Linked DNA regions of Homo sapiens: region 2 is linked to region 1. Evidence: fine-mapped expression QTL. A gene starts in region 1. The other region holds a variant in brackets. All regions are shown on one strand. Distances are from middle to middle. Region 1 holds the start of SMARCD1 (SWI/SNF related BAF chromatin remodeling complex subunit D1). Region 2 holds the start of LETMD1 (LETM1 domain containing 1).

What was found. PIP is the estimated chance that this variant, and not a neighbour inherited with it, causes the effect.
Region 2: its variant is the best candidate, but not a certain one, in a credible set for the expression of SMARCD1 in whole blood (TOPMed, PIP 0.57).

Annotation. Positions count from the first base shown.
Region 1 is chr12:50,076,879-50,093,139 of GRCh38, forward strand. SMARCD1 (SWI/SNF related BAF chromatin remodeling complex subunit D1) reads left to right here and starts at 8,464. Exons shown (of 13, transcript NM_003076.5): 1 at 8,464-8,668; 2 at 9,283-9,470; 3 at 9,743-9,785; 4 at 9,878-10,000; 5 at 10,485-10,607; 6 at 11,643-11,759; 7 at 13,006-13,107; 8 at 13,363-13,524; 9 at 13,615-13,712. The coding sequence starts at 8,492. It overlaps ASIC1 (acid sensing ion channel subunit 1), which reads left to right. Exons shown (of 12, transcript NM_001095.4): 4 at 335-485; 5 at 1,122-1,249; 6 at 1,543-1,699; 7 at 2,046-2,102; 8 at 3,024-3,177; 9 at 3,620-3,711; 10 at 4,224-4,303; 11 at 4,382-4,486; 12 at 4,667-6,733. The coding sequence ends at 4,771. RefSeq lists silencers at 4,210-4,379, 8,377-8,816 and enhancers at 6,957-7,689, 8,047-8,306, 9,156-9,887.
Region 2 is chr12:51,046,670-51,062,280 of GRCh38, forward strand. LETMD1 (LETM1 domain containing 1) reads left to right here and starts at 1,658. Exons shown (of 9, transcript NM_015416.5): 1 at 1,658-1,809; 2 at 2,365-2,516; 3 at 5,423-5,538; 4 at 7,109-7,191; 5 at 9,166-9,352; 6 at 9,475-9,576; 7 at 9,681-9,833; 8 at 11,363-11,459; 9 at 12,692-13,755. The coding sequence starts at 1,688. The coding sequence ends at 12,762. It overlaps CSRNP2 (cysteine and serine rich nuclear protein 2), which reads right to left. Exons shown (of 5, transcript NM_030809.3): 5 at 14,536-15,611. RefSeq lists enhancers at 933-1,052, 1,103-1,182, 1,273-1,542, 1,364-1,902, 1,653-1,702 and 1 more. The variant G/C (reference allele first, on the strand shown) is at 10,656.

The sequences.
Region 1 (16,261 bases):
GGCGAGGGCTGGGGAAGGATTCATACCCCAATCTTTCCTCCTGCCTTCTGAGCCATTACCAATACCTCCCAACTGTCAACCCCAACTAGAAGCCCATGCAGGTGGCAAAGGAGCTCAGGCGATGCACCCTACCAGGAACAGTTTTCCAGGGCACACAGAGGGCAAGAAAGGGTGAGAAACAGGTGGGAGAGGGGAGCAAATGGAGAATGGGCTGCACGGGAGGAACCATTCCCAAAGGGTGTTGAGATTCCAACAGCTGGGGTGGCTAGGAACAGCCCTTGGTGAGTAGAGGGTGCTGGCAGGACTCTTAGGCTCTCCACTCTGCCCTCGCCAGGTCTTCACACGCTATGGAAAGTGCTACACGTTCAACTCGGGCCGAGATGGGCGGCCGCGGCTGAAGACCATGAAGGGTGGGACGGGCAATGGGCTGGAAATCATGCTGGACATCCAGCAGGACGAGTACCTGCCTGTGTGGGGGGAGACTGGTACGTCACCCACTTCAGGGGCCCCTCTGCATGGCTCTAGGCCCCAGCCTCTGCCAGGGGATTCCTGGGCTTCACTGTGAGACCTGGGCAGGGCCCGGGCTTTCCCCTCTCCCTCCAGCATCTCACCATCTCTATCACTGACTCTACCTGACTTCCACACTCACATCTCTCTGGCTCCCACTTCCTGGTTCAGTTACTCTCCAAGGTAACCAGCCATCCTCTTCCATCAACGCCGCCGCCACTCTATAAATAACTCCCTCTCTTCTCGGGCTGCCTGCCTGTCTGGTCTCGGGGGGCCTTGGGGCAGAGAGAGATGGGGGAAAAGGGAAAAAGGGAGTGGGAGAAATGGAGAGCATCTGAAACAGTGACACTCTGGGAGAAAGTATTTGAAACATCAAGATGCAGAGCAGAAGCCAGGTAAGAAAAGAAGTGTGTAGGATACAGGGGTCATCGGAGCAGCTCAGAGCTGGTAAACCCAGAAGGAGGCTAGGGGGTGGGCTAGGACCCTATAGACTTCCCCCACCCCAGCCCCAGTGCACCCTATGCTTATTTCCAGGAGAGGTAGGATGCCCCCAGGTCTGAGGGGTGTTAGGGAGTCAGGAGCCCTCCCAACCCACACACTCCTCATTCCCCTAGACGAGACGTCCTTCGAAGCAGGCATCAAAGTGCAGATCCATAGTCAGGATGAACCTCCTTTCATCGACCAGCTGGGCTTTGGCGTGGCCCCAGGCTTCCAGACCTTTGTGGCCTGCCAGGAGCAGCGGGTGAGAGGGCCATGGGAGGCTGGTCCTGGGGTGGGGTATTGAGGGGTCCAGATGGAGTGGTGGGCAATCAGTAATGGGAAGGACAGGTGAGCAAGGACCTGGGTGGTAATCTGGCTAGTCAGAAGCATGAGTGATCGAATGAACAAGAATGCTCTGTAAACTCTGAGACCTTTGGAGGCTGCAGAGGGAGAGGGGAGCAGAACTCCAGAGATCTGCATCTTGTCAGAGGAGTCCATCAAGCTGATTTGGGGAGAAGTCCCCGCACTCCCCCAGCTCCCCGGCTCTCCCAGCAGCTCATCTACCTGCCCCCACCCTGGGGCACCTGCAAAGCTGTTACCATGGACTCGGATTTGGATTTCTTCGACTCCTACAGCATCACTGCCTGCCGCATCGACTGTGAGACGCGCTACCTGGTGGAGAACTGCAACTGCCGCATGGTGCACATGCCAGGTCAGGCCTGGGGCTCCGAGCATACTCCTGGGGTCCCTGGGCCTTTGCTGCCCTTCACTAGCTCCCCATCCATATCAATCTCCCAACCCCAGTTCCAGCCCACCCCATCCCACACCCACCTGGCTCATGTCTCTCTGACCTCAGTTCCCGCCTGCACCCCCAGGGATGGGTGGGAAGGGTCTAGAAGGTATGGACCTGGAGTGGGTCACTTCTGGGGCAGCATGGGGGCCTGCCAGTCCTCCCTTCCCATCTTCTCCCAGCTTACACCTTCTAGGCCTTTGGTACTACCACCATCACCAGACCCCTTGAATTCCCATCCTGCATCATTGTCTTTTCTCCTCTGTAGGGGATGCCCCATACTGTACTCCAGAGCAGTACAAGGAGTGTGCAGATCCTGCTCTGGGTGAGCGCCCCTGGCCTGGGGCAGTCTGGGGGAGGGAAAAGGTGCTGCCAGCCACGTGCGCAGGAGTTTCAGGTCACGCTCCCAGAAGCCTCACATAACTCCTGGACTGGGCTGCACCCTCTCTTGTGTCTGACATTAAAGCTGAGAATGGTCAGTCATGGTGGCTTACACCTGTAATCCCAGCACTTTGGGAGGCTGAGGTGGGCAAATTGCTTGAGCCCAGGAGTTCGAGACCAGCCTGGTTTCATGGTGAAACCCTGACTCTATGAAAAATTAAAAAAAAATTATGTGGGCATGGTGGCATGTGCCTCTAGTCCCAGCTACTCTGGAGGCTGAGGTGGGAGAATTCCTTGAACCGGGGAGGTGAGGTTGCAGTGAGCCGAGATTGCACCACTGCACTCCAGCCTGGGTGACAGAGCAAGACCCTGTCTGAGAATAATAATAATAATCAATAAAGTTGAGAATAGCATCTTCAGAGGCCCCTATGAAAAATGAACAGAGGTCACCTGGGAATGGCCTTCATCTTCTTTCATCAGCCCCTCAGCTGGTTGACCCTGGAGGGTCCTGAGGAAGTGAGATATAAGAGTAAGAAATATCCATGGGGAGGCTTGGTGAGAATTAGCACATGGTAGACACAGCTGTGAGGGGGCAGCTGGGGTTCTCCTCACTCTCCTAGTTCTCTCCATCTACATCGTTGGTTCAGTGGCCTGCAGGGTTCAGCAGGTAAAGTCCTCAAACATGCCTCAGGCTGGATGGTGAGGTAGGATGTTGGCAGAGTTTAGCATCCAGGCAGGGTGAAGGGCAGGTCACGGAAAGAGAAAGGGGCCCAGAGTTTCTCTGGGCAGAGCTAGGATGTGCATGTGGGAAGGTGCTGGCAGAAGGGCACCACTCAACTGAGACCTCTCACCTGGCTGAGTGCAGACTTCCTGGTGGAGAAGGACCAGGAGTACTGCGTGTGTGAAATGCCTTGCAACCTGACCCGCTATGGCAAAGAGCTGTCCATGGTCAAGATCCCCAGCAAAGCCTCAGCCAAGTACCTGGCCAAGAAGTTCAACAAATCTGAGCAATACATAGGGTAAGGGCTCTGGCTGGGTAGAGCAAGGCCCTTGGGTTGGGACTGTGGAATGGATGAGTGGGGTTTGATGGGGGCGGGGGCTGGCAGGCAGGGGGAACTTGAGATAACACGGGGAAGGTCCAAAAGGCAAGCAAAGAGTCTAGGGTGGGTATGCAGGGAAGATCAAGCCAGAATAAGCAGGGAAGCACCCCTTTCTCCTCCTTCTTCATCCTCATTGTTGTAACCGGAGTCACTTTATACTTGATGCATACTGCATATGGTACAGAACATTTTTTCATATATGCCATCTCATTTAATCCTAAAAGGCAGGTATCTCCATCAGCATCTCATTTTATGGATATGGAAACTGAGATTCAGAGAGGCTGCCTTGCCAAGGTCACCTGGTTAGTAAGAGATAGAGATATGACTTGAACCTAGGTCTCCTCCCCCAATCCCTGTGCAGGGAGAACATCCTGGTGCTGGACATTTTCTTTGAAGTCCTCAACTATGAGACCATTGAACAGAAGAAGGCCTATGAGATTGCAGGGCTCCTGGGTGAGCTGCTGATGACACCTGTCCCCTTCTCATGCCATGGGCATGGCGTGGCTCCCTATCATCCAAAAGCAGGGTGCTCACTTCTGTCCCATGAGGGTCCTCCACCCCAGAGGCCCTTCCCCAAACCCTGTTGTCTTGGTAAGTGGTGAGGGAAGGGAACTGAGCCTTCTCTTAGGGCAAAGTGGAAAAGAGAAAAGACAGGCCTGTGGGCATGAGGGAGGGGTAGGCATGGAAGTGGAGACTATTTCATATGCCCCTAAACTAAGAGGGTTGTGGTATTTTGTAAACGATTATTTTTCTTGAAAAACACCTGCTTGTTTTAGAAAGGTAGAAAAACGCAGAAAAGCATAGAGAAGAAAACAAAAATTCCACCTGAATCTGGCTTTGCGATCCTTCTGTGCGAAGGCTACCAATCCCTTTGAGAATACAACTTGCCTGCCCCAGTCCCAGTAAACCCTGCTGCCCCCACGATGTCCTGACCCCACTGACCCCCCTGGCGCCTGCCCCCGCAGGTGACATCGGGGGCCAGATGGGGCTGTTCATCGGGGCCAGCATCCTCACGGTGCTGGAGCTCTTTGACTACGCCTACGAGGTAAGCGGGGGCGAGGCCCGGCACGGGGCCACGTGGGGGCGGGGTCCAGCCCGCCCACCTGCCCCGTCCCCGTCCTAGGTCATTAAGCACAAGCTGTGCCGACGAGGAAAATGCCAGAAGGAGGCCAAAAGGAGCAGTGCGGACAAGGGCGTGGCCCTCAGCCTGGACGACGTCAAAAGACACGTGAGGGAGCGAGCGAGGGCGCCCTCCAGCCCGCCTGTGCCTCCACCGCCCCAGGAACCCCGTCCACCCCCGCCCACCCGCCTCTGCCACCACCTTCTCTCCTTTGCCTCCCGAATGCCCCAGCACTACCTGAAGCCCTTCCGAGGGATAACCCGTCCCTGTCCTGTCCCCTTCCCCCAGAACCCGTGCGAGAGCCTTCGGGGCCACCCTGCCGGGATGACATACGCTGCCAACATCCTACCTCACCATCCGGCCCGAGGCACGTTCGAGGACTTTACCTGCTGAGCCCCGCAGGCCGCTGAACCAAAGGCCTAGATGGGGAGGACTAGGAGAGCGAGGGGGCCCCCAGCTGCCTCCTCACATCTGCCCTGGGGACTCCCCACACTCCGGGGCAGATCTTTCCTCTTGTCTGTGGTAAGGAAGGAGTCTTGACCATAGAGTCCTCTCTCTGCCTCTATCCCATTCTTTTTACATTTAACAAAACTAATCTAAAAAAGAACTAAAAAGGGAGAACGGGGCAAGGGACCTCAGGCTGCCCCTCTCTCCTCCATGCTGCCTCCCCTAGCTCCCAGCCTGAATTCTGTCTATCTAGCTGTCTGCCATCTGAGTGTCCATCTACATTCTGCTGCCACCAGTCACCAAAGGCCCTTCCCAGTGAGGGGTGGAAGGGATCTCTGGGGTCTGGAATTTGGCCCCAAACCAGAGAATGTACCTTAAGGGGGAGGGCTAGTGTGGGGGAGGGAGGCTTCCCCAGCCTTAAGAGACCCTCTCAGCCCAGTGACTGTCCCCAAACCCAAGTCTCCTGGCAGGAACTAAAACCTCAGCCCCACTCTCTCACACCATGTGGAATCTCGTGGGGGTCGGGGATCCCCTTAAGAAGTGGTAATGGGGACAAGATGCGGCCCTGGTGCTGTAGGCTACATCCTGATACCTATAAGTTCACCCCCACCCCACAGCTGCTGGAGAGAAATCCCAAGAGGCAGCCCTTCCTCACCATCCCATTAAAGACCGGGCTGGTTAGCGTCCAGCTCAGGGAGAAGGGCGCTAGTGCCTAACCTCACTGGTCCCTCTCCCGGAGGCCCTTGTAGAGGGCCACGTCCATAAATTTTCTTATGGAACTCTCCCACATCCTCTTCCCCAACTTCATTTGCTTCTCTCAACAACCTCATCTGCATTTTCTATTTCTATATGATACAGACTCTATATTGCTATATCTCTGTATATACTTTCCCAGCCCTGTCTGTCTCCACCCCATCCCCTCTTGTCTCTGAGAACCATTCTCCCACCCCAAGTTCCACCTTCTATGTTTCTACTCCCTCCCTGGTCTCTGAATGCCTTCGCCTGTATAAAGAGTTGGACTCTCTCCCCTGGTGTCTGTACTGTGTACACACATCCCTCTGAGAAGCACAAGGAGACGACACGCGCATTGTAACCTTTGCACTGTCTCAGTGGCGACAAAGGAAGCTGTGAATCACAAGCTCTGCCTCTTTCTGGCCTCACCCTCTCCCCCAACCCGGGCACCCTCGGCCCTCCCTGCAGCCTTAACATTCTCTTCCCCTGCTCCTCCTATCCCATTGCCCTCTGCCCAGCTGACAGTGGCATCCCCAGGGAAGGGGTTGCTGTAGAGATAGCCCCCACCCAGGGGATGGAGGTCTACCCTGGACACTAAGCCAAGTGTGTCAGAGACAGAAGGGAGCTGGGGATTGGCGACTCCTGAAGTTGGGGCAGTGGGATGCTGACAGGCAGAAGCTGAGGTCCTCAGTCAGTGGCCTTTCCTCCTTCTGGGTGCCCAGCCCCCTTTCCTCACCTGATACCCAAGCCCACCACTTTTATTTTCTGGTGAGGTGGGTTTGGGAGGAAAGAGAGGCCTAGAGGAGGAGTTGAAAGCTCTGCTGTTGTCTCACCCTATCTTAATGAGAGACAAGTGAGGTGGAGGGCCTGCCCCCCCTCCCTCCACCAGACACTCCTTCCAGGCCTGAGCCCCAACCCCTCTTCAGGCCTTCCTTCCCTAGCTGTGTCTTGGTCTTCAATCCCAGAACAGGACCTGTGAGCAGCTGCATTGGCCTGGAGCTGGAGAGTAAGGCTGTAGGATCTTTGGAATCTCTTGGTTCCTAAGAGTTTCCTCAGAGATCATACCTCCCCAGAGGGAAGCAGGAATGAGGCCAAAAAGTGTGCATTGGATAGGGGAACAGCAGGCAGGGCTCTGGGTGACGCATGCCTCTGGTCTAATAAACTGGGTTTCAACCATCTCCTCTTCAGTGTTGTTCTCTTATTTGAAAAAGTATTTAGATATTCTCACTAAGTGCCTAAAGCTGAGCTTGGTTTGGGGCCAATTAGGGGATGAGTAAGGAGAAGGTTTGAGTAGGGACACTGTGGTCCCCCTGGGATGGGACAGGCTGACCATTATATCAGGAATAGTTTGAACCACTGGGCAGGGAAAGAGGGAGAAGTCAAAGGCAACAAAGTTCCAAAACAGAATCCCCAATACAAAGGATGCTTTAGAGAGAGAGAGCAGAGTCAAAATTCAAGATAAACTGGAACTTATCATAAAATCTGGAAGCAGGCTGGCACGGTGGCTCATGCCCGTAATCCCAACACTTTGGGAGGCTGAGACAGGTGGATCACTTGCGGCCAGGAGTTCGAGATCAGCCTATGCAACATAGTGAAACCCCCATCCCTATTTTTTTTTTCTTTTTTGAGATGGAGTCTCGCTCTGTCGCCCAGGCTGGAGTGCAGTGGCGCGATCTCGGCTCACTGCAAGCTCCGCCTCCCGGGTTCACACCATTCCCCTGCCTCAGCCTCCCGAGTAGCTGGGACTACAGGCGCCCGCCACCACGCCCGGCTAATTTTTTTGTGTTTTTAGTAGAGACGGGGTTTCACCGTGTTAGCCAGGATGGTCTCGATCTCCTGACCTCATGATCCACCCGCCTGGGCCTCCCAAGTGCTGGGATTACAGGCATGAGCCACCGTGCCCAGCCCCCCATCCCTATTTTTTAATATTTAAAAAAAAAAAAATCTGAGGCCAGGCACAATGGCTCACACCTGTAATCCCAGCATTTTGGGAGGCTGAGGAGCACAGATCGCTTGAGCTCAGGAGTTCGAGACCAACCTGGGCAACATGGCGAAACCCCATCCCTACCAAAAATACAAAACAGTCTGGCATGGTGGTGCATGCCTGTGGTCCCAGCTACTTGGTAGGCTGAGTTGGGAGGATCACTTGAGCCTGGGAGGCGGAGGTTGCAGTGAGCTGAGATGGTGCCACTGCACTCCAGCTTGGGCGAGAGAGAGACAGACCTCATCTAAAAAAAAATAAAAAATAAAAAATAATAATCCGGAAGCAGGTTAGGTCAGAGAGAAAGTTAGGATGAAGTTCCCACGTGAGGTACTTATTGAGGCACTTTATCTGTGGAATGAGTCCCGGGCTATGAGCAAGGGTATCTGGAATCTTGGCTTCGGCTTTATGGCTAACTTGCTGGTTGACCTTTGCCAAGTCATTCACCTGTGAGTTCAGCTTTCCCATTTGTAAAATGGAATAAACTGTGTTTCCCTCCTCAGCCCCTGATAGTTATAGCAGTAAGAAAACGAAACGAAAAGCAGTCAAAGCGTTTTGGAAAGTTAACGCCATGCGCCAAGATGAAGCTATTACTCCAAGCCCCTCTTCATCAGAGGGCTCGAGTTGGGGTTGAGACTGGGGCTGAGGCTGTGGTCCGTCCCCCTTTCCAGGTCCTTGTCTTCCTCCCGTCGGCCTGGGGGCGCCCGCTCACGCGGCCTCTCTATTGCAGAGCTCTTCTCTATGGTTTTCCCTCCCGGACCGTGAAGGCGGGAGGGCGTGGCCAGCACGCCTTTTCCGCTAGTCGCCCCGCTCTATCCCATAGTCTCGCTGCCCTGAGCCTCCCGTGCCGGCCGGCCGGCCGGGGGAACAGGCGGGCGCTCGGGGGGCGCTCGGGGGGCGGGGGGAGTTCCGGTTCCGGTTCTTTGTGCGGCTGCATCGGCGGCTCCGGGAAGATGGCGGCCCGGGCGGGTTTCCAGTCTGTGGCTCCAAGCGGCGGCGCCGGAGCCTCAGGAGGGGCGGGCGCGGCTGCTGCCTTGGGCCCGGGCGGAACTCCGGGGCCTCCTGTGCGAATGGGCCCGGCTCCGGGTCAAGGGCTGTACCGCTCCCCGATGCCCGGAGCGGCCTATCCGGTGAGTGGGGCAGGAGGAGGGGCGCGCGGGCCGGGGGCGGGGCCGAGCGGGGACATGGGAGTGACAGGGGTGGGGGGAGAAGTAGGAGGGACTCCCTTGGGAGGGGTTCGGGCTCTGGGTGGGGGTTGGGGGAGGCAGTGCGCAGAAAGAGAGGGGGAGGCAGTTACACACCTGCTCCTAGGGGCATTGTTTCCCTGGGGAGTCGGTAGAGAACCTGGGTGGGTGAAGTGGGTCCAGGGATACCTGTATGAGGGCCGGAGTGCAAAGGGGCTTGAGCAGCTCCAGTGATCAGAGGAACACAGAACGTGTAGCTGACAAATTGAGGTCAGCTTCTAAAGAGATAGTAGCTAGCAGAGTAAATGTGGAACTGGCGATGTCCGATGTGTCCCATCCAAAATAGACTGAGAATTTGAGTATAATCTGGCTCTCGCTTAGCTTTTGGACTCTGTTTTTCTATGGAGTCACTACTGGAGCAAAGGGTTCTCCTCTCATTGTCCTCCATTCCATCCCTAAACCTTACTTCATTCAAAGATCTCAGGCGTTCCCTGCTTTTCTTTCTTGATGGGGTTTAGCAGGTGAAACCATGACATCTCTGGGTCCTCTCCCCTCTGTAGAGACCAGGTATGTTGCCAGGCAGCCGAATGACACCTCAGGGACCTTCCATGGGACCCCCTGGCTATGGGGGGAACCCTTCAGTCCGACCTGGCCTGGCCCAGTCAGGGATGGATCAGTCCCGCAAGAGACCTGCCCCTCAGCAGATCCAGCAGGTCCAGCAGCAGGCGGTCCAAAATCGAAACCACAAGTAAGATGATCCTGGGGCAGAGGGAGGGAGGGAGGGAGCCTGGGAGGACACAGGTGGTGGGAGTACCTGAACCAAGAAGTGGTGGTGCTGTGTCAGCAGATGGTGCTACAGAACTCATCCTTGAGAATGCTTGGTGGTGGTGGTGGTGGTGGTAGTTCTTTGAGAGAAGCTTTGCAGTCCCTTCACATTACTATAAATGGACGTGCTGACAGCTTATTTTCACGTTCTGACTAGTTCTGTCCCAACCTGATAATAGTATTTATTCCCAACAGTGCAAAGAAAAAGAAGATGGCTGACAAAATTCTACCTCAAAGGGTGAGTCCAGGCTATATGTCTTCTGGAAAGTGTGGTGAGTTTGAGTATAGAGATGATCATCCTAGATTTCAATTAATTTTTCTGTTCCTAAGATTCGTGAACTGGTACCAGAATCCCAGGCCTATATGGATCTCTTGGCTTTTGAAAGGAAACTGGACCAGACTATCATGAGGAAACGGCTAGATATCCAAGAGGCCTTGAAACGTCCCATCAAGGTAACACAGGAAAGTACTAGGCAGAGAGCCAAAGGAGAGGACCCAGGAACCTTCAGCAGAATTAGGATGAGAAATCAAAGGCACAGCACAACTCTCCTTGGCATTTAAATTGCATCTCTCCCTTCCGCCTACAAACTGAGAATTACATTAGGAGGATAAGAACAGAATGGCAAAGGGGGAGGGGCTCTTGATGTCTCTTGCACTACAAATATACCCTTGTCCATGTTTTCGCTGTAACTGCTCTGCTACCTTGGGAACCTGGCACCTTGCATGACTTTGTCCACCTGGCATCCCACTATATGCACTTGTACTTAGGCTGATGGCCAGTACTCCTCTTCTAAATGGAATCTTCATCCACCCACCCAAGGGACTGGGTAGACAGTAAGCCAGTCTGTTAGGAGTAATTTTGGGGTTTGGGGAGACCGTTGTCTTCAACATCAGACCACTGAAGCCCCACGATCAATCCTGTTTCTGCCTTCCTCAGCAAAAACGGAAGCTGCGAATTTTCATTTCTAACACTTTCAATCCGGCTAAGTCAGATGCCGAGGATGGGGAAGGGACGGTGGCTTCCTGGGAGCTTCGGGTAGAAGGACGGCTCCTGGAGGATGTGAGTTCAAGGTCCACAATGGTTGGCATCTAGGGTGGGAGCTGCTGGGAATGAACAGTGTTGTCTGGTCAGCAGGAAGCCTAACTGGTGCTCACAGCTCCTTTTGGGAGCAGTAAGGAGAGGGACACTGTTCCCTGCACTGAAAGACAGTGGTCCTTTGTGTTTGCCCCCACACCTTTGGCCCTCACTGGTATCATATGGAGAACCTTATTGTCCTGGGATCTGATTTGTGGTTTACCTTCCTCTTGGTGCTGCTGGCCATTGGATTTAGCCATATCTGTAGATTATTTAGTTTTTTTTTTTTAATCGAGTTTGCACTTAATTTGAGGCTGTGTTTCCTCTCTGAGTCCTTGTGGTATCTCCATCTTCTCAACTTTCACTGGAGGCACCCCACAGTTTAAGTAGGATAGATTTCTCTTGACAGGCTCTTTGTTGCTTCCTGGGGAGCATCAGCTGACAGGTGATAGTCCCCAAACTTCCCACCCCAGAAGCTCCTCGGGGAAGCTCACCTTTCTCTCATTCCCTTACATTCTCTGGCTCTTATTTTTAGCTGCTCGCAGGCAAGCTAGTTGGAATGCACTTTTGCAGGAGAACCAGGGCTCAGTGTCAGAGCCTCCTTCTCTATATAGGTCCGGTCCATCTGCTGGTGGTGTCATTCTGTCCAAATAAAGCTGTTTTTGTTCTGGCTGCTTATTGCCTGTGATTCATTTCCCCTCTAGAGTCAGACTTTTCTCTGTTCAAACTCGCTTAGTTATGTGCAATGGTTTGCTTAACTTGCCTCATTTCCCTTGGGCAAATGAGATGGGTAAAACAGTGACCCTCTATGTGTTCTAGGCTGCTTCTTCAGGGTTCTGTTGCTACTATGATTGGTTTAATACCTGCAGATGCCTACTTTGCCTATCTCTCTTAAGAGATATTCAGAAGATATTTTTTGAGTTTTTTTCCATTGTTGTTGGGGTTCCTTTTTCATAGGATTTTGTCTTGGGAAGTTTCTTCTGGCCTTTCCTAATGTGATTTTTATTTTCTCTCCTCTAGTCAGCCTTGTCCAAATATGATGCCACTAAACAAAAGAGGAAGTTCTCTTCCTTTTTTAAGTCCTTGGTGATTGAACTGGACAAAGACCTGTATGGGCCAGACAACCATCTGGTAGAAGTGAGTAGCTCTGCCTTCTAGGCTTTGACTCTGATTGGAGGATGATGGACTTGGGAGCCGTATTTTAATGTCTAAGGAGATGGGGAGGTATAAAGTAGTCACTCTAGGTGTACACAGTACCGCTCCAGGTGTACAGTTTGCACATTGACCTCTAGGTGGCACTAGCATGTTTAGTTAGGACCAAGGGCTCTTGTAACCTAACTTGTCCCATCTTTTTAATGTTACTATCCTGGTCACTGCCACCTCTTTCAAGGGAAAGTCTACTGGTGGCCTCTTGTATGTGCCAGGCCATCTCTGTATCTTGCTTGTTAATAATGGTGAGATGTAGTTATCCATTTTTCCTGGCAGCAGTTGCTGTAATTAGAGTGATTGACTGATAGGGTACTAGTACTTGCCAAGGTTACCATTATAGATCTGGGACTTCCTCTTGGTCTCTGCTCTGTTTACATTTACATTCCAATTCACCAAAAATCCTTTATTATGATGCCTGATTGCACAACGTTTTGAAGCCCATGTTAGCAACAGTATTCTTTGGGAAACAGGCAAAACCAGAATGACAGTCCAGCCAGCACTCCAAGTGAACCTAACCTGCTCCTTTCTTTGCCAGTGTAGCTGCAGCCCCTTAACCTCAACCACTAAGAGACATGGGGAGGTCTTTACCATCTAATAAGGGAAGTAAGTCATAGAATCAATAGAAACTTGTAAATATATTTAATTTTATAGCAGTAGAGTATAGTGGCTAAGAATGTGGACTGTAGAATCAGACACATCAGAGCTCAAATGGTGGCTCCGCCACTTACTGGCTGTTTGACCTAGGCAAGTTACTTTATTATGCTGAGCATTAGTTTTCTCATCTGTAAAATAAGTATAATTGTGCCTATCTTGTATAGATGTTCGGGAAGTGAGATAATCCAGGTAAATGTCTTAGAATACTGTCACACATAGTAAGTACTCAGTAAATGATAGCTATGTTACTGTTCACATGTGTATTATCCATTTTGTGGATAAAATTATCACTGGACATTGAGGCTTATTTAAATCAACCACAAACAATTAAAAGGTTAATCTACTTATACACAGACAGTAATCCCAAAGCCATATGCAGTTTTTTAAAATGCCTCATGCTATTACTCTTCTCCAGTAGCCTCAGTAATCAAAGTTGAATATTCAGTCATTACAGAAGCTCTTCCCTCCCACCCCAGCTCTTCCTCTGGGAGAGCACCCCCTGACATCTTCCTCTCTGTAGTGGCACAGGACCGCCACTACCCAGGAGACCGATGGCTTTCAGGTGAAGCGGCCGGGAGACGTGAATGTACGGTGTACTGTCCTACTGATGCTGGATTACCAGGTATTCTGTGGTGGTGTGAGGGGGTCCAGCTTTCACAGCCACATACCGTCAGCAGTCTCACTTTAAAGAGTTTATGTCTAGTTGTGAATAATTTGCCACTTTGGCACAGAGATAGAGTCTTAGTCATCTCTGAGTTCTTCCTAGAATTTTTCTGTCCCAGAAAAAGCACTACATTATTTGTTGAATAGCTTGAATGTATTGCTGCATATAGACGCAGCTAACTAGCTTCATCCCCTATACTTTGGTTCCCTGCAGCCTCCCCAGTTTAAATTAGACCCCCGCCTAGCTCGACTCCTGGGCATCCATACCCAGACTCGTCCAGTGATCATCCAAGCACTGTGGCAATATATTAAGACACATAAGCTCCAGGACCCTCACGAGCGGGAGTTTGTCATCTGTGACAAGTACCTGCAGCAGGTAAGTAATGGACCCATTCTTTTGCTAGAATCCATTAGAACACTAGTTATGCTCAAACTGCTAACCTCGTGCTTCTCCCCTTTGCTACAGATCTTTGAGTCTCAACGTATGAAGTTTTCAGAGATCCCTCAGCGGCTCCATGCCTTGCTTATGCCACCAGAACCTATCATCATTAATCATGTCATCAGGTAGGCCTGTGTGTGGGAGGCAGTGCTGTGCCGGAGCTGCCTTGTGCCGATTTGCACAAGCCAGTTGTCAAATTTTCAGGAATTTTGCAAACAGGTTGTTAAACACAACTGTTACACTGTTACTTACAATTAAATTACATAAACTTATAATTAAATATATTAGACTAAAAGTGGGTAACATATATTCAAAATGTATAACTTCCTAATTATTACATTTTATTGTATTTGTGCTTTTTTTTTTTTTTTTTTTTGGAGACAGAGTCTCACTCTGTTGCCCAGGCTGGAGTCCAGTGGCGCGATCTCGGCTCACTGCAAGCTCCGCCTCCTGGGTTCACGCCATTCTCCTGCCTCAGCCTCCCGAGTAGCCGGGACTACAGGCACCCGTCACCACACCTGGCTAATTTTTTGTATTTTTAGTAGAGATGGGGTTTCACCATGTTAGCCAGGATGGTCTCAATCTGACCTCGTGATCTGCCCGCCGAGCCTCGTGATCTGCCCGCCTCGGCCTCCCAAAGTGCTCGGATTACAGGCATGAGCCACCGCGCCCAGCCTGTATTTGTGCTCTTGAGGTTATTTTTGCCTGTTGTATCCATCTGGCGGAAATATGATATAATGATGTGCTTATGTGTTACTGTGCATCTCTTCCCATGAACAGTAATGTAATGTTGGTAGCTTGAAATCAGAATTTTTTTTTTTTTTTTTGGGATGGAGTTTCACTCTTGTTATGCAGGCTGGAGTGCAATGGCACAATGTTGGCTCACCGTAACCTCTGCCTACTGGGTTCAAGTGATTCTCCTGCCGTAGCCTCCCACATAGCTGGGATTACAGGCATGTGCCACCATGCCTGGCTAATTTTGTATTTTTAGTAGAGACAAGGTTTCTCCATGTTGGTCAGGCTGGTCTTGAACTCCCGACCTCAGGTGATCCACCCGCCTTGGCTTCCCAAAGTGCTGGGACTACAGGCGTGAGCCACCGCGCCCGGCCTTTTGTTTTGTTTTGTTTTGAGATGTAGTTTTGCTCTTGTTGCCCAGGCTGGTGTGCAATGGCATGATCTCAGCTCACTGAAACCTCCGCCACCTGAGTTCAAGCAATTCTCCCTCCCCAGCCTCCCACGTCGCTGGGATTACAGGCACCTGCTACCATGCCCAGCTAATTTTTTTATATTTTTAGTAGAGACGGGGCTTCACCATGTTTGCCAGGCTGATCTCAAACTCCTGACCTCAGGTGATCCGCCCACCTGGCCTCCCAAAGTGCTGGGATTACAGGTGTGAGCCACTGCGCCCGGCTGAAATCAGAATATTTAAAGCCCAAAGATCAGCAAATGCCACACATCTGGGCACTTCCTCCCACTCTCCTTTGGAAGATCAGTTGTTAAACATCTACCAGCTCTTCACTCATGGAAGGGCTCAGCAGCCATCTTTTCTCTGGATGGTACAGCATTCTAGTCCGAGCCTCCCAATTCCATTACCTCTGTTCACTTTTTTGTTTAGAAGCTGGAGAGCAAGGCATCTCTAGATAGGGGGTGAAGAAAATTTCCTTCTCAAAGCAGCGTGTCTCTGTAGTTGGATATAGTCTCTTTGTCTTCCTTCCTTTATTCCATATTAATTCTGGTAAGGGCTTTCTTTTCTTTTCTTTTCTTTCTTTCTTTTTTTTTTTTTTTTTTTTTTGAGACAGACAGAATCTCACTCTGTTGCACAATCTCGGCTCACTGCAACCTCTGCCTCCTGGGTTCAAGCGATTCTCCTGCCTCAGCCTCCCAAGTAGTTGGGATTACAGGCGCATGCCACCACGCCCAGCTAATTTTTTGTATTTTAGTAGAGACGGGGTTTTACCATGTTGGCCAGGATGGTCTCGATCTCTTGGTCACGTGATCCACCCGCCTCGGCCTCCCAAAGTGCTGGGATTACAGGTGTGAGCCACCACACCCGGTGGGCTTTTTTTTTTTTTTTCTTTTGACCCTGAACCTACAAGATGACAGAGAGGGAGGGGAAAAAAAGAAAAAAGATAAGACCCTGAACCTTCACTTACACAGTAGTAACTCCTCAACCTATAAATTAGGTCAGTAGAAGTTGGTCTGTCCTATATTCCTATGCTTAAAGTTAGACCACTTTTAATTTTGTGTTTGACTTTATTTTTGGGGTCAATTTTAGTTTAAAAGGGAGAAAGCCAGGCACGGTGGCACATTCCTGTAGACCCAGCTACTCCAGAGGCTGAGGTGGGTAGATCACTTGAGTCCTGGAGTTCGAGTCCAGCCTGGGCAACAGAGTAAAATCCTGTCTCTGAAACAATAAAAAAAGATTTGTTTGGCTGGGCGCAGTGGCTCACGTCTGTAATCCCAGCACTTTGGGAGGCCAAGGTGGGTGGATCACAAGGTCAGGAGTTCAAGACCAGTCTGGCTAATATGGTGAAACCCCATCTCTACTAAAAATACAAAAATTAGCTGGGCATGGTGGTGGGCGCCTGTAGTCCCAGCTACTTGGGAGGCTGAGGCAGGAGAATCACTTGAACCGGGGAGGCAGAGGTTGCAGTGAGCCAAGACTGCGCCACTG
Region 2 (15,611 bases), 970 kb after region 1:
GCATGAGCCACGGCGCCCAGCCGTCTTAGTCAACTTTCTATCCCGTCCACCCCATCTACCCAACACTTGTGAAGATCCAGGGCCATCTTTTAAAACTTTTCCTCTGACTGCACGAGTGGTACAGTCATTAATAACCTGTGCTAATATAAAGCTCTGTGACCCATAAAGCATTATACAGATGTGGGAGCTTTCACAGCTGTATTCTCTTTGGATCCTCAAAGATTTCTTATAAAGTAGGTACTATTATAAGGGAAATAAACTCAGAGCTAAAGTGACATATCCAAGGTAACATTCACTAAAACAAACGTCAATGCCAAGATTGAACCTATATCCAGGGAACCCACATGGGATGCTCTACCACCTTCCATGAAGAATAAATATTCATATATATCCAAGAGGACTGTTAATTCTTGGAGGCAGTTAAGTACCACTTCTGGGAATCCTTCTTAGTTTCAAGTATGAATCTATTCAAACATGTTTACTGAACACCTACTATGTGCTAAGTAAGGCACCTAGTGTTGGAGGTGCAGCAATGAACAAGGCAGAGAAGATGCTTACCCTCATTCTAGTTCAGGGAGCTGTCAAACAAGGACACAAATACATAAACACTGTAAGTGACAGATGCTACAAAGAAAATACAAGGCCGGGTGCAGTGGCTCACGCCTGTAATCCCAGCACTTTGGGAGGCCAAGGCTGGCGGATCACTTGAGGCCAGGAGTTGAAGACCAGCCTGACCAACATAGTGAGATCCCGTCTCTACTAAAAATACAAAAATTAGCCGGGCGTGGTGGCGGACGCCTGTAATCCCAGATACTCGGGAGGCTGAGGCAGGAGAATCGCTTGAACCCGGGAGGCGGAGGCTGCAGTGAGCCAAGATCGCGCCACTGCACTCCAGCCGGGGCGACAGAGCAAAACTGTCACAAAAACAAAACAACAAAACAAAACAAAACAGAGTAACATGAGAATAAGTGTGAAGTGTGTCCTTTTCGCCGGCACTGCTTCAGATAGGGTGGTCACAGAAATCCTCTCAGAATAGTAACATTTAAGTTGAGACAGAGCTTGGTCTTCGGTAGGTGCTTAACGAAAACCATTTTCCCACAAACTTAGTTCTGGAAACGACAAAGAGAGGAAAAAGTGTACTCAGTCCGCACAGGGGCCGCTCCCAGGCCTCCAACCTTCGCCGCCAGACTGACTGGAAAGTGGACAGTTCCCGGCCTATCCACGCCGGCACCATTAGAGGGCGCCGCGGGTCCTCCTAGCCCCAGGCACTGGCAAACTGACATCTGCTACCTAACAGTCGAGGCTCCGACGCCCCGAGTCCAGGCAGAGGGCAAGGGCGGCGCTGGGAAGCCCTGAGGCCCTAAGGAATCGCGGAGGGTCACTGGGCGCCTCAAGGACAGGGTGCCCTCCGCGTCGCAAACCCACACCAGTGGCATAAGAACTCGCTCCCTCTGGGACACCCTGTTTCCGGCGCCTTTAAACCTGGAAGTACTGCTGTGTCCAATCCTGGCCCTCCTTCCGCACTTAGTCTTTGAGTCCTTCCCTCTCCTGGCTTGTGCTGGAGCCAAGCAGGCTATGGCTACCAATCAGCGCTCAGAAAAGACGCATGCGTCTTCGAACGAACGCGACGTACGGTTAACTTTGACCCAAAGACAACCTCTTCTCTCCCGCTTCTCTCGCTGTGAAGATGGCGCTCTCCAGGGTGTGCTGGGCTCGGTCGGCTGTGTGGGGCTCGGCAGTCACCCCTGGACATTTTGTCACCCGGAGGCTGCAACTTGGTCGCTCTGGCCTGGCTTGGGGGGCCCCTCGGTGAGGGACCTGTAGCGAGAAAAGCATTTTTGACGTCCAGGCTCTTTCAGTGTCTCAACCTTGCTTGCATTCTGTCTCTTAATTCTCAGAGTTCCACGCCTTGGCCCTGGAATTTTTATTCTTCTGTTCAGGATTCAAACTCCGATCCCCACTAGTGACCCGGCTTCCTGACCCTCTGTACTCTCAGTGCCCCATATTGTCTGGTTTCCCCGCGTGTCCTGAGCTCATCTTTCAGCCTCACTTTTTCGGCTCAGGTTTTACCGCTGCTATCTCGATTCCACCTCTTTCTGACTTAGCCTGCAGTTCAAATTGTCCCACAGGCATTGCGCTCTCTCCAGAGGCATACCCTGAGTTACTTTCCTGCCTGGCCTTTGCCTGATTTGTGTTTCACAGTCTGATTGCCTATCTCTTCTTGACCCCAAGACCTTCCTTGGATTTCAGAAGTGTCAAGCCTTGGGATACAATCTCCGAGACTCCTGCTTTACATTAGGGACTCAAGGCGTGAGGGAGCTTCTAGGACTGATTCCCAGATAGTCTCTTTGATCTTCCTTGTAGGTCTTCAAAGCTTCACCTTTCTCCAAAGGCAGATGTGAAGAACTTGATGTCTTATGTGGTAACCAAGACAAAAGCGATTAATGGGAAATACCATCGTTTCTTGGGTCGTCATTTCCCCCGCTTCTATGTCCTGTACACAATCTTCATGAAAGGTAAAAACGAAACTACAATAGAAATTCCGGAATCAGCTCTTGGGCAGGGTCAAAGAGTTAGCATAAATAAGATCATTTGCAGGTTCTGCTATGGGGATGTGAGCCGAGATATCTTATATTTCATAAATGCCTGCGCCTTAAACTAATTCCTATAAATTAGCACTTCTTGAGAATGTTTCTAGAAAGATGTTATGAGAAACAACTTATGACAGCAACATGAGGGAGGGAGAATATAGGTATGTTCTCGTACTTTCTTAACCACACACCTGGCTATAGTAGAAATTTTTTGCCTTGCACACGGCAGGGATCTGTGGCTGTATAGACCTGCCCTGTGATGTATCAGTTGACTTACCCATAGGAAAATGAGGTCTAACCCTTGTTATGAATCTATATTAGGTAGTATGTTGTAGTGGCAATAGCCCTACATAATACTTGGTTTCTAAATGTTTTGTTTCAAATCAGAGATCCTTAGTTACTAGGAGAAGATATGTATCGTGTCAAGTGTCTACTCTGGAGCCAGATTGCCTGATTCAAATCCCAGTTCGTCACTGTGCGATTGGACTAATTAATTAACCCCTCTTTCCTTGGTTTTCTTATGTGTAAAATGGGAGTAATGGAACCTACCTATTTATCACATGATTGTGAAGACTTTAAAAATTGATACATGTAAAGTACCTAGAACAGGTCCTGATCCCTAGTAAGTGCCAAGTAAATGTTAACTTATTTTCATCTAAATGTTACCTAACAGTATTATAAGTTGGTGCAAAAGTAATTGCGGCTTTTGGCTTTCAGTGGCAAAAACCACAATTGCTTTTGCACCAAATCTATAATATGCTCTATGCTTTTATCATAACACTATAATAAACTACATTGTCAAATCTGAACATTATCATAATTATTACTAGCTTCATGGACTTGAAAAATTACTTATCCTTAATTTGTAGAGATAAAATTGGCTGCTTTTTCTGTTTTCATGTAGATAAATAGGATCAAATGAGAGAAAGGGATGAAAGCATTTGTGTTTGTTTTTAAACTTTTTATTATGAATTTTTTTTTTTTTTGAGTCTCACCGTGTCGCCCAGGCTGGAGTGCAATGGCATGATCTCGGTTCACTGCAACCTCTGCTTCCCGGATTCAAGCAATTCTCCTGCCTTAGCCTCCCAAGTAGCTGGGAATACAGGCGCCTGCCACCACACCAGGCTAATTTTTTTATTTTTAGTAGAGGTGGGGTTTCACCATATTGGCCAGGCTGGTCTCTAACTCCTGACCTCGTGATCCGCCTGCCTCGGCTTCCCAAAGTGCTGGGATTACAGGCTTGAGCCACCGCGCCCGGCCAACTATTATGGAAATTTTTAAACACACACAGATGTAGAGAGAGTAGTGTAACAAACTTCCATGTATTAACCTCACTTCATTATCATAACTCATGGCTGCCAATCCTATTTATATACTTGCCTTATGTATTATTTTGAAGACAATCGAGACATCATATAATGACATGTAAATCATTGATAAATATGAAAGCATTAAAGAAATAGATGCAAGAAGCCGGGCGCGGTGGCTCATGCCTGTAACCCCAGCACTTTGGGAGGCCGGGGCGGGCGGATCATCTGAGGTCGGGCGTTTGAGACCAGCCTGACCAACATAGAGAAGCACCGTCTCTACTAAAAATACAAAATCAGCCAGGTATAGTGGCACATGCCTGTAATCCCAGCTACTAGGGAGGCTGAGGCAGGAGAATCTCTTGAACCTGGGAGACGGAGGTTGTGGTGAGCCAAGATCGCACCATTGCACTCCAGCCTGGGCAACAACAGTGAAACTCCCATCTCAAAAAAAAAAAGAAAAGAAAAAAATTAGATGCAAGAATTTTCATAAAATGAAAATTTAAAATGTAATCATAAAAATATATTGAACTAAACTACTTTAAAAAGTGTTCCAGGCTGGGCACGGTGGCTCACGCCTGTAATCCTAGCACTTTGGGAGGCCAAGGCGGGCGGATCATGAGGTCAGGAGTTTGAGACCAGCCTGGCCAACATGGTGAAACCCAGTCTCTATTAAAAATACAAAAATTAGCCAGGTGTGGTGATGGGCACCTATAATCCCAGCTACTCGGAAGGCTGAGGCAGGAGAATTGCTTGAACTCAGGAGGTGGACGTTGCAGTGAGCCGAGATTGCGCCACTGCACTCCAGCCTGGGCGACAGAGCAAAACTCCATCTCAAAAACAAAAATAAGTGTTCCAGGCCGGGCGCAGTGACTCATGCCTGTAATCCCAGCACTTTGGGAGGCCGAGGCAGGTGGATTGCTTGAGGTCAGGAGTTAAAGACGAGCCTGTCCACATGGTGAAACCCCATCTCTACTAAAAATGCAAAAATTAGCCAGGCATGGTGGCACACGCCTGTAATCCTAGCTACTTGGGATTCTGAGGTGGGAGAATTATATAAACCTGGGAGGTGGAGGTTGCAGTCAGCCGAAATCGCACCACTGCACTCCAGCCTGGGCAACAAAGTGAGATTCCATCTCAAAAAAAAGAAAAAAAAAGTTCCAGAAAGGAGATTAAATTAATATCTGGCTGGGGAATACATAGGGTTAATTTAGCAAGACTTTCTGAAGTTAGGGAGCTTGATTTTTAAAAAGGAGTGACCAGTGAAACAGAAGAGGGAGACCATTCCATAGCAGATTACAGAAGCCAAATGTAGCTAGAAGAGAGGCGATGTGCTAGGGGAAAAAATGTTGAGAAAAGAGATTCGAGTTGACCTCAGGAGTTTCAAGTTACCTAGTTTAAAGCTTTGAGTATCGTTGGGGAGGGGTGAGAGTGTTTGCATGTGATTGAACATGGAGTAGGAAGCTGTGGTTAAGATTTAAACTGGGATAACATCACACTCTGTCCTCTACTTTAATGAGGCAGGATTGCAGATGTTATGGGCTGATGCCAAAAAGGCTAGAAGAATAAAGACAAATATGTGGAAGCACAATATAAAGTTTCATCAACTTCCATACCGGGAGATGGAGCATTTGAGACAGGTATGGGCCAGGGGCAGATATCCAGAAGTTCATGGTGAGGTAATTACATTTAATCAAGATCTCAAGGTTTTTTCTTTCATTTGTTGTTCACCATTGATCAAGCTTTTGCCCTTTGCCGTGAGAACAAAATATTGAACTGAATGAGGCATCAGATTATTTGTAAGAATTGGGTTCATCCAGAGTTGTAGCCCTCCATAGCAAGAGCTCCATAGAATTTCTGGCACACTTTCTGAATGAAAGTTGTAAATACTAAAATCTAATTAGTTTCTGAACATAACAAAAGTCTGCAAGGGGGCTGGGCGCGGTGGCTCACGCCTGTAATCCCAGCACTTTGGGAAGCCGAGGCAGGCAGATCACGAAGTCAGGAATTCGAGACCAGCCTGGCCCACAAGGTCAAACCCCATCTCTACTGAAAATACAAAAATTAGCTGAGTGTGGTGGCGGGCGCCTGTAATCCCAGCTACTCGGGAGGCTGAGGCAGGAGAATCGTTTGAACCCGGGAGGCAGAGGTTGCAGTGAGCCAAAATCATGCCATTGCACTCCAGCCTGGGTGACAGGGCAAGACTCCATCTCAAAAAAAAATAATAATAAAATGAAAATAGAAGTCTGCAAGGGCAGCCAGGCACAGTGGCTCTCGCCTATAATCTCAGCATTTTGGGAGACTGAGGTGGGCGGATCACCTGAGGTCAGGAGCTTGAGACCAGCCTGGCCAACATGGTGAAACCCCATCTCTACTAAAAATTCAAAAATTAGCTGGGCATGATGGCAGGCGCCTGTAGTCCTAGTCCCAGCTACTCGGGAGGCTGAGGCAGGAGAATTGCTTGAACCTGGGAGGCGGAGGTTGCAGTGAGTGAAGATCGCGCCACTGCACTCCAGCCTGGGTGATAAGAGCAAAACTCTGTCTCAAAAAAAAAAAAGTCTGCAAGGATCCAAAGGGCAGCATGAAAGTAGTATTTGGTGGTGACTTGATGGGTCGTTTTGAAGCTGAGAGTAAGAATCTAGGACCCATTCCGCAGATCAGGAAGAGTTCACTGAAGGATTTGGTATAATGTCAGGCTCTGTACTAGACATTATTTGGGATACAAAAGTAAATAAGTCAGAGGTTTTGTCCTCAAGGAACTAACCATCCAGAAGTAAATAGAAATAAACTTGGGGACCACATGCAGTGCTCATGCCTGTAATCCTAGCACTTTGGGAAGCCAAGGCGGGCAGATCACTGGAGGTCAGGAGATTGATACCAGCTTGTCCAACATGGTGAAACCCTGTCTCGACTAAAAATACAAAAGTTAGCCTAGAGTGGCGGCTTATGCCAATAATCCCAGCTACTCGGGTGGCTGAGGCAGGAGGATCACTTGAACCCAGGAGGCAGAGGTTGCAGTGAGCTAGGATTGCACCACTGCACTCCAGCCTAGGTGACAGAGCAAGACTCCATCTCAAAAAGAAAAAGAAAGAAATTTGGTCCTTTTTCTGGGCTGTAATAGAAGTTTACTGTACAGTGGGGTGGATGGATTGTCTATTGTATTAACAACTTATTTGGGTTAAAACTGCATCTGTGTTTATTTCTGCTTAGTTCCGCCAAGACGTCACCAAGTGTCTTTTCCTAGGTATTATTTCCATTCCACCTTTTGCCAACTACCTGGTCTTCTTGCTAATGTGAGTACAGACTTCCATCTCCCCAACATCTTGAAGATGTATCAATTTTTTTAAATTAAGAATTACTTTAAACAGCACTCATTTCAGAAGATAGGCAGAGGTTATCAAACTTCTGCTCCAATCTTCTCATTATTCCAAGGTTCATAAAAACCACTTAGGAAGACCTTGGTTACTGTGACACATCACAGCTATAAGTGTAGGTGGCCTAGACTCTCCCTATCTCTTAGCTGCCCTGAGTCATGTGAAATAAGATAGTGACCTTCTCCATCATCCCTAGAGGCTCTCTCCCCGAGAGAGAGTACTTTTAGACTAATTTCTTTAGGAAAAGTACATTTCGTATTCTGATAACATTTTTATTACTTCATATCCAAAAATGACATTTCTTAACTGTGATCTTGCATGTCATTCATTATCTATTGCTGTATAACAAATAACTTCAAAGCTTAATAGCATAAAACAATCGTATAAATCATTTTCATGATTTTGTAGCTCAAGAATTAGGGCAGTGCTCAGGTGGGCAGTTGATTTCTCTCTTCCATATAGGGTTGACAGAGGTCCCTTAGTGATATTTAGCTGCTGAATGGACTAGTCTGGAAAGTCCAATATCACTCTTATGTCTGGTGCCCTGGCAGGGATGGCTACACGGCTAGAACTGTCAACCAGAGTGCCCAGATGTGGCTTCTTCAGTATGGCAGCCTCAAGATAGTGGGACTTCTAACTTGGGAGCTCAGGGCTCCAAGAGTGAGGGGTTCTAGTAAGAATCTACATGACTTTATAACCTTGTCTTGAAGGTCACATAGAGTCACTGCTGCTCTGTCCTATTGATTGAATCAGTCACCTAGAATGAAAAAAGGGCAGGATGTAGACCTCAGCTCTCCATGAGACAAGTGCCAGAGAATTTGAGGTCATGTTTTAAAACCACCAAACACGTAGATAAATAAATTAAAAAACAAATCGTGGCCAGGTGCAGTGGCTCACGCCTGTAATCCCAGCACTTTGGGAGGCCGAGGCGGGCAGATCACAAGGTCAGGAGATTGAGACCATCCTGGCTAACACAGTGAAACCCTGTCTCTACTAAAAATACAAAATACTAGCTAGGCGTGGTGGCGGGTGCCTGTAATCCCAGCTACTTGGGAGGCTGAGGCAGTAGAATCGCATGAACCCAGGAGGCAGAGGTTGCAGTGAGCCGAGATCGCGCCACTGCAGTCCAGCTTGGGTGACAGAGCGAGACTCTGTCTCAAAAAAAAAACAACAAATCAGTTGCCTTTTACATACTGGGTCCACATAAGGACTGTGCTATAGTTAGATTGTCAACATCACATATAGTGTCCTGGTCAGGCTGCAACTCTCTCCAAAGCATGCTCTTCACATGCTTTAGTTCAAAATGAGTCATTATATCTGATTGCTGCGTGGCAGGCTATTCTGCTAGTCCTTCCTTTCACATCCCATTTCAGTAATGGTGCTTGAAATTGTGCTTCAGTGTGTCTTATAAACTTTGGTCTGAGAGTCACTTAAGAGAAAGGGCTGACTGTAGTGGCTCTCACCAGTAATCCCAGCACTTGGGGAGACTGAAGCAGGAAGATTGCTTGAGACCAGGAGTTTGAGACCACCCTGGGCAATATAGCAAGACCCGTCTCTGCAAAAAAATTAAAAACTTAGCCAGGCATAGTGGCCTGTGCCTGTAGTCCCAGCTACTCAGTAGGCTGTGGTGGGAGGATTGCTTGAGCCTAGGAGGTCGAGGCTGCAGTGAGCTGTGATCTTGCCACTGTACTCCAGCCTGGGTGAGAGAGGGGACCCTGTCTCTTAAAAAAAAAAAAAAAAAAAAAAAAACTGAAAAAGAAAAAGAACACTGAGGTAGGGAAATAGTGTCTCCATCTCTTCTTCCTAGTATTCATGTCTACCAAATGCTTTCTTTGGCTTCCTCTGAAAGAAGCCAGTTTCAGCAAGTGAGTTTGTGATTCTTTCTCCTTTCAGGTACCTGTTTCCCAGGCAACTACTGATCAGGCATTTCTGGACCCCAAAACAACAAACTGATTTCTTAGATATCTATCATGCTTTCCGGAAGCAGTCCCACCCAGAAATTATTAGTTATTTAGAAAAGGTCATCCCTCTCATTTCTGATGCAGGACTCCGGTGGCGTCTGACAGATCTGTGCACCAAGGTATTCCTGCAGTTAACCCTTCCTACAAATGTGGAATCTTGTTAGATTCAGTGTGCACTAAACTAGGTAAGAGGAGTAGTCAGGACTTTCCTAACATCTACAAATCTCTTACCTCTTCCAAGATACAGCGTGGTACCCACCCAGCAATACATGATATCTTGGCTCTGAGAGAGTGTTTCTCTAACCATCCTCTGGGCATGAACCAACTCCAGGCTTTGCACGTGGTGAGCACTTTGAGGGCTTCTCTTTTCCATAGCATCACCATGTTTCAGGTGTTTGCTTGAGCTCATACTATTTGCCTTTCCCCTCCTATGTGGTTGTGTTACAGAAAGCCTTGAGCCGGGCCATGCTTCTCACATCTTACCTGCCTCCTCCCTTGTTGAGACATCGTTTGAAGACTCATACAACTGTGATTCACCAACTGGACAAGGCTTTGGCAAAGCTGGGGATTGGCCAGCTGACTGCTCAGGAAGTAAAATCGGTAAGAGCTTGATTGCAACATCAACCCTCAACCCTTGGTGTGCTTTTGAGCCTATGGCAGGCCGGAGGTTTACAGGGGCTCCTTGTCTTGTTTGTTTATAGAACCCAGCTTCTTTATTCTCTCACTTCATTTATTTATTTATGATTTATTTTTATTTATTTATTTATTTTGAGACAGAGTCTCATTCTGTTGCCCAGGCTAGAGTACAGTGGCACAGTCTTGGCTCACTGCAACCTCTGCCTCCCGGTTCAAGTGATCCTCCTACCTCAGCCTCCCAAGTAGCTGGATTACAGGTGTGCACCACCACGCCCAGCTAATTTTTTGTATTTTTAGTAGAGATGGTTTCACCATGTTTGCCAGGCTGATCTCAAACCCCTGGCCTCAAGAGATCCATCAACCCAAAGTGCCGAGACTACAGGTGTGAGCTACCGCACCCAGCATATTTATTTATTTTTCAGTCTCACTATTTTAACCAAGCTGGTCTTGAACTCCTGGCCTCAAGCAATCCTCCCATCTTGGCCTCCTAAAGTGCTGGGAATACAGCCGTGAACCACTGTGCCCGGCCTTTTTAAAAATTATTTTTTAATTAGCCAGGAGTGGTGGCACATGCCTGTAATCCCAGGTACTTGGGAGGCTGAGACATGAGAATTGCTTGAACCCAGGAGGTGGATTGCAGTGAGCCAAGATCGCACCACTGCACTCCAGCCTGGGTGATAGAGTGAGACTCTGTCTCAAAAAAAACCCAAAAAATAAAATAAAATTATTTTTTATTTTTGTAGAGACAGGGTCTCACTATGTTGCCCAGGCTGGTCTTGAACTCCT[G/C]GGCTCAAGTGATCCTCCCGCCTTGGCCTTTCAAAGTGTTGGGATTACAGGCATGAGCCACTGCGCCCAGCTCCTCACCTCATTTCTGTGTCTTTTTTCTCAAGAAACTTAGCTAGGGGGAAGGAATTGCCCACAGAAATTTTGGTTTGTATTTCTTTTCTTCTGGCACTTCAGAAAGCAAGGATACTGCAGTTTAGACCTACTATTTTAGCTTATATAGGACTCTTTGCTTTTGTCATCTTGTCCATCACTAGTTTTCAAATTGCCATGAGGAAAGGCTTCATGTGGGAATGAGATTGTAACTTTTTTTTTTTTTTTTGAGACAGAGTCTCGCTCTGTTGCCCAGGCTGGAGTGCAGTGGCATGATCTTGGCTCACTGCAACCTCCGCCTCCCAGGTTCCAGTGATTCTCCTGCCTCAGCCTCCCGAGTAGCTGGGACTGCAGGTGCATGCCACCACGCCTGGCTAATTTTTGTATTTTTTAGTAGAGATGGTGTTTCACCATATTGGCCAGGCTGGTCTCCAACTCCTGACCTCGTGATCCGCCTACCTCGGCCTCCCAAAGTGCTGGGATTACAGGCACGAGCCACCGTGCCCGGTGAGATTGTAACTTATTTAAAGGAGATTTAGGATTGTTTGTGGATTTCCATTTCCTTGGCATAATCATTCTATGATTATTAAGGACCATTTCTGTTCTGAGTGGTATAGGCTTGTTATCTCCGTGGCCTGAATTCTACGCATATTGGTGAAGATAGGTGTCGAACTTGGCTGGGAGAATGGCTGCAGATTTCCTGCAGCCTGAAAGGTAAAACACATTTCTGTGGTTATACCACTAAAATCCAAGTCACTTTTGTATTTTATTCTGAGGTCATTTTGGAGTTAATTATTGAGTACTGTGAGACATATATATACATACATCTAATTGAAAGGGCACAAACTCACATGCCTACTGCATGCCCGGCAGGTAACGAAGTAGGCCATAAGACAAGAGGGAGTAGTGGGGACTGTGGAAACCTAAGAGTGAATGCATGCTAGTGTGAATTTTCCAACCTTGGCACTTCCTTATGGGGGGAATATCCTGTGCTTTATTTATTTATTTATTTATTTATTTTGAGACGGGGTTTCGCTCTTGTTGCCCAGGCTGGAGTGCAATGGTGCGATCTCGGCTCACCGTAACCTCTGCCTCCTGGGTTCAAGTGATTCTCCTGTCTCAGCCTCCCAAGTAGCTGGGATTACAGGCATGCACCACCACGCCCAGCTAATTTCGTATTTTTTTTTAGTAGAGACCAGGTTTCTCCATGTTGGTCAGGCTGATCTCGAACTCCCGACCTCAGGTGATCCGCTGGCCTCGGCCTCCCAAAGTTTTGGGATCACTGGCGTGAGCCACCATGTCCAGCCTATCCTGTTCTTTATAGGTATTTATTATAGCAGTATCCCTAGCCTCTACCCACTAGATGCCAGTAGCACCCCTTCACCCACAGTTGTCTCAACCAAAAATGTCTCTAGACATTGCCAAATGTCCTAGGGGTGGGGAGGAGAGAGGCAGGATTGTCCCCGTTGAGAAGTACTGGTCTAAAGGCATTCAAACTCAGAAAAAAAACAGTCTGCTGACCAAACACAAAGCATCTGAGGGTATGTATTAGGCTTGTTTGCCCCCTGTTTAGGCTAGGTCTTGATGTTTTGTGGGCCTTTGGATGTTAGGGTAGGCCTACTAATCTTGAAGCTGAGAAATGTCCCTAGAGCACCAACTTCTACCAGAAGAATCCCAACGCGACTGGTGTTTAGTACCATTACCATCTCTGAATTTTCTACTGCAATCACATGAGAAATAGAGGATGAGTTGATACGAATATATAGTAGAAGGAAAGGAAGGCATGCATACAGGGGCTGAAACAAAGAAGGGGAACTTTGAGAAAAACAGCTTCTTCATTCCACCCCTCCCTGCACTTGGCTTCCTGCCTCCAGGCTTAAGCCATATATAACAAGGCAGTTATAAGGCAGTGTTCCCAAGCCAAACCACTAACACTGTGTTTTCAGAAGCTGAGCTGTCTCTCTTGCTGCACAACGTGGTCCTGCTCTCCACCAACTACCTTGGGACAAGGCGCTGAATGAACCATGGAGCGGATGGCATTGTCCTGCAGTCGTATAGTATAGCAGTGCAGGAACAAACAGCACTTGCCAGCAAAGTCTGTGTGTACTGTTAAGTGTGTGGGAGGCAGAGAGAGGAGCAGGGGCCATGGGCTTCACAGCATGGCACACATGTGGGAACTGCAGACATTCCTCTCACAGCTAGAACTGAAACAAACCCTCTTGCTAGGGGTGGTCCGTGTGAGGTGTCATCCTGTCCCCCTCATAATTACTAATAGCTGGAACTGGCAGCAGCCTCTACTGGGCTTTTACTGTGATGTGTTCAGTTCATGTCCTAGGAAGTCAGCTTTTGCCCCAGGTGGGAATCCTTATTTGGCTTAGGACTGATCCACTTCCATGTTACTTACATCTGTGGGTTTTTGTTGTTGCTGTTAGAAAATTTGTGGCTGGTGAAAACAGCACTCCTTTGGCTGGAGCACATGTGTCCGTGCATGTACTTGGGTGTTTCCCTCCATCCTTTCTGATATGACCAAAAATCAAGTTGTTTTGTTTTTTGTCACCTTCACTGGCATGGGCTAACCACTTCTTTTTCAAACCCTCTGAACACCTTTTTCTGATGGGTAACTTGCAGGAATATTCTATTGGAAAAGATAACAGGAAGTACAAGTGCTTCTTGACCCCTTCCTCAATGTTTCTAGCCTTCACTCTCCATTGTCTTTTCTGGGCTGTATTACAGCCCTCTGTGGATCTTCAACTCTGCTGCCTCCACTGTGATGCAGCAGTCCAACTGTAACTGACAGTGGCTGCCTTCTCTGGGCCATGGATCACACCTGTAAGGTACTAATTACTGCCCAGCCTGGGGAGATCAGGAGAGGTCTGCATAGTTAGTAAGTTGGGTTTAGCTTTTGTGTGTGCATCAGTGACTTAGAGTTCTGTAATAACTTATTGTAAATGCATGAAGCACTGTTTTTAAACCCAAGTAAAGACTGCTTGAAACCTGTTGATGGAAATGACTTATGCATACTCTAATCATTTTGCTGTCTCCTTTTACAAGACTGACATAATCTAACAAATGGGGATTTAATTGGTTGGCATAGAACCTTCTGATGGGATGGAAGTTTTGCAGAAACTGATTTGAAGTTGATCTCCTTGCTGGACACTTTAAGGTGATAACAAGGAAAAGAGAATTTCATAAAGTTAATGGAATGAGGCCGGGCGCGGCGGCTCACGCCTGTAATCCCAGCACTTTGGGAGGCTGAGGCGAGCGGATCACAAGGTCAGGAGATCAAGACCATCCTGGCTAACACGGTGAAACCCCGTCTCAACTAAAATAGCAAAAAATTAGCCAGGCGTGGTGGTGGGCGCCTGTAGTCCCAGCTACTCAGGAGGCTGAGGCAGGAGAATGGCGTGAACCCGGGAGGCGGAGCTTGCAGTGAGCCGAGATTACGACACTGCACTCCAGTCTGGGCGACAGAATGAGATTCTGTCTCAAAAAAAAAAAAAAAAAAAAAGTTAATGGAATGAGAAAATGGGAGCCCAGAGTAGGGACAGGGCTAAGCTCCAACAGAGCAGGAGCAAGGCCTGCTTCAGCTGAACAGGTACACAAGGGCATATGAACCAAGTCCAGCTCTTGGTACTCCAAAGAGAATATTCTATTTTTCCATCACAAAATGTTTCTATTGTTAACATTAATTCCTAACTGACCTAATTAGTTTTATAACGAAGCTAGAGAAGCATCCTTTTTCTAACAAGTAACTGAACTGTGGCCTGCCGAGACAAAGAGTAACACATCATTCTTTTGAATATTTCTTTAATATTACATTTAAATATTCTCTTTAAATACAGCATTATCACAATGTAAAGAACCTAAAGGGGAAAAAATTATTTTCAGAGAACCAGACAAGCTTTGGATTCACATTGAAAATACTACCTGTGTACAGTATGTGAGAAAGGAAATTGGAAAATAATAAGGGTTGTGGTAATAAGAGTCATTTATCTAGGCCTAGACTGGGACTGAAGCTATCTGCTTCTATGATCAGAGGCCTAGCTTTCCTAGCAACCATGAGCTAGAATTCTGTCCAACTCAGGTAGCACCAGAAGTGAGATGGACTAGGTTGTAGAGAAGGCCTTTCGCTTGACAAGACAGTTAATGCTAAATGTTAATATTTAGCACTTAAAAGTTTGGGATCAGTGTGAGTCACAACTGTAGCGTTAATGAAGGGGATGGACTTAAATTAAGAAACTACAGGTTTTCAGAAACATATCTTGTGGGTTGGCAATGAGCTTAATAATTACAGATTCATATTCCTGGTTTGATCCCAAAAGCTAATGTGTTCCTCATCGTGCAGCTGGAATCTACTTCCTAGATTAAGCCGGAGCCTTCCTGCAGAGACAGTGGGCAAACCTCACCCTCCCCTTCCGACACAAACTTTGAAAAAGATTCTTTTCTCCATAAAGCCAAATTCCCAATTAAGCTTCAGTCCTGTGTTTGAGGGTACCAGTCTAAGGTAGGGGAGTCTAGTTCAGTTCTGGGTAGCTTCGAGAGCTCAGGTACTTAAAAGACTCTCAACTGTGTTTTGTGAGGCTAGGGGATGGGGAGAGATAAGGATCTGTGTACTTAAGTTCCCCTCCAAACTAAAACCAAGCAAAAACTGGAACAAATAGGAAAGGCAGAATGAACTAAAAAATGTTATGTGTATTAAATACAAATCTTTTCAGGCTCAGAGTTTAGAGACTTCAGGGGTGAAATGCTGCTGCGACATACGTGATGGTTTCTGTAAGACACCAGGGCCTTAATATCCCACCAGAAAAGGCTTTATGAGCAAGATAAGTAGGAGTAGTGTCTCCCCCCCAACACAGTTTTTCACTT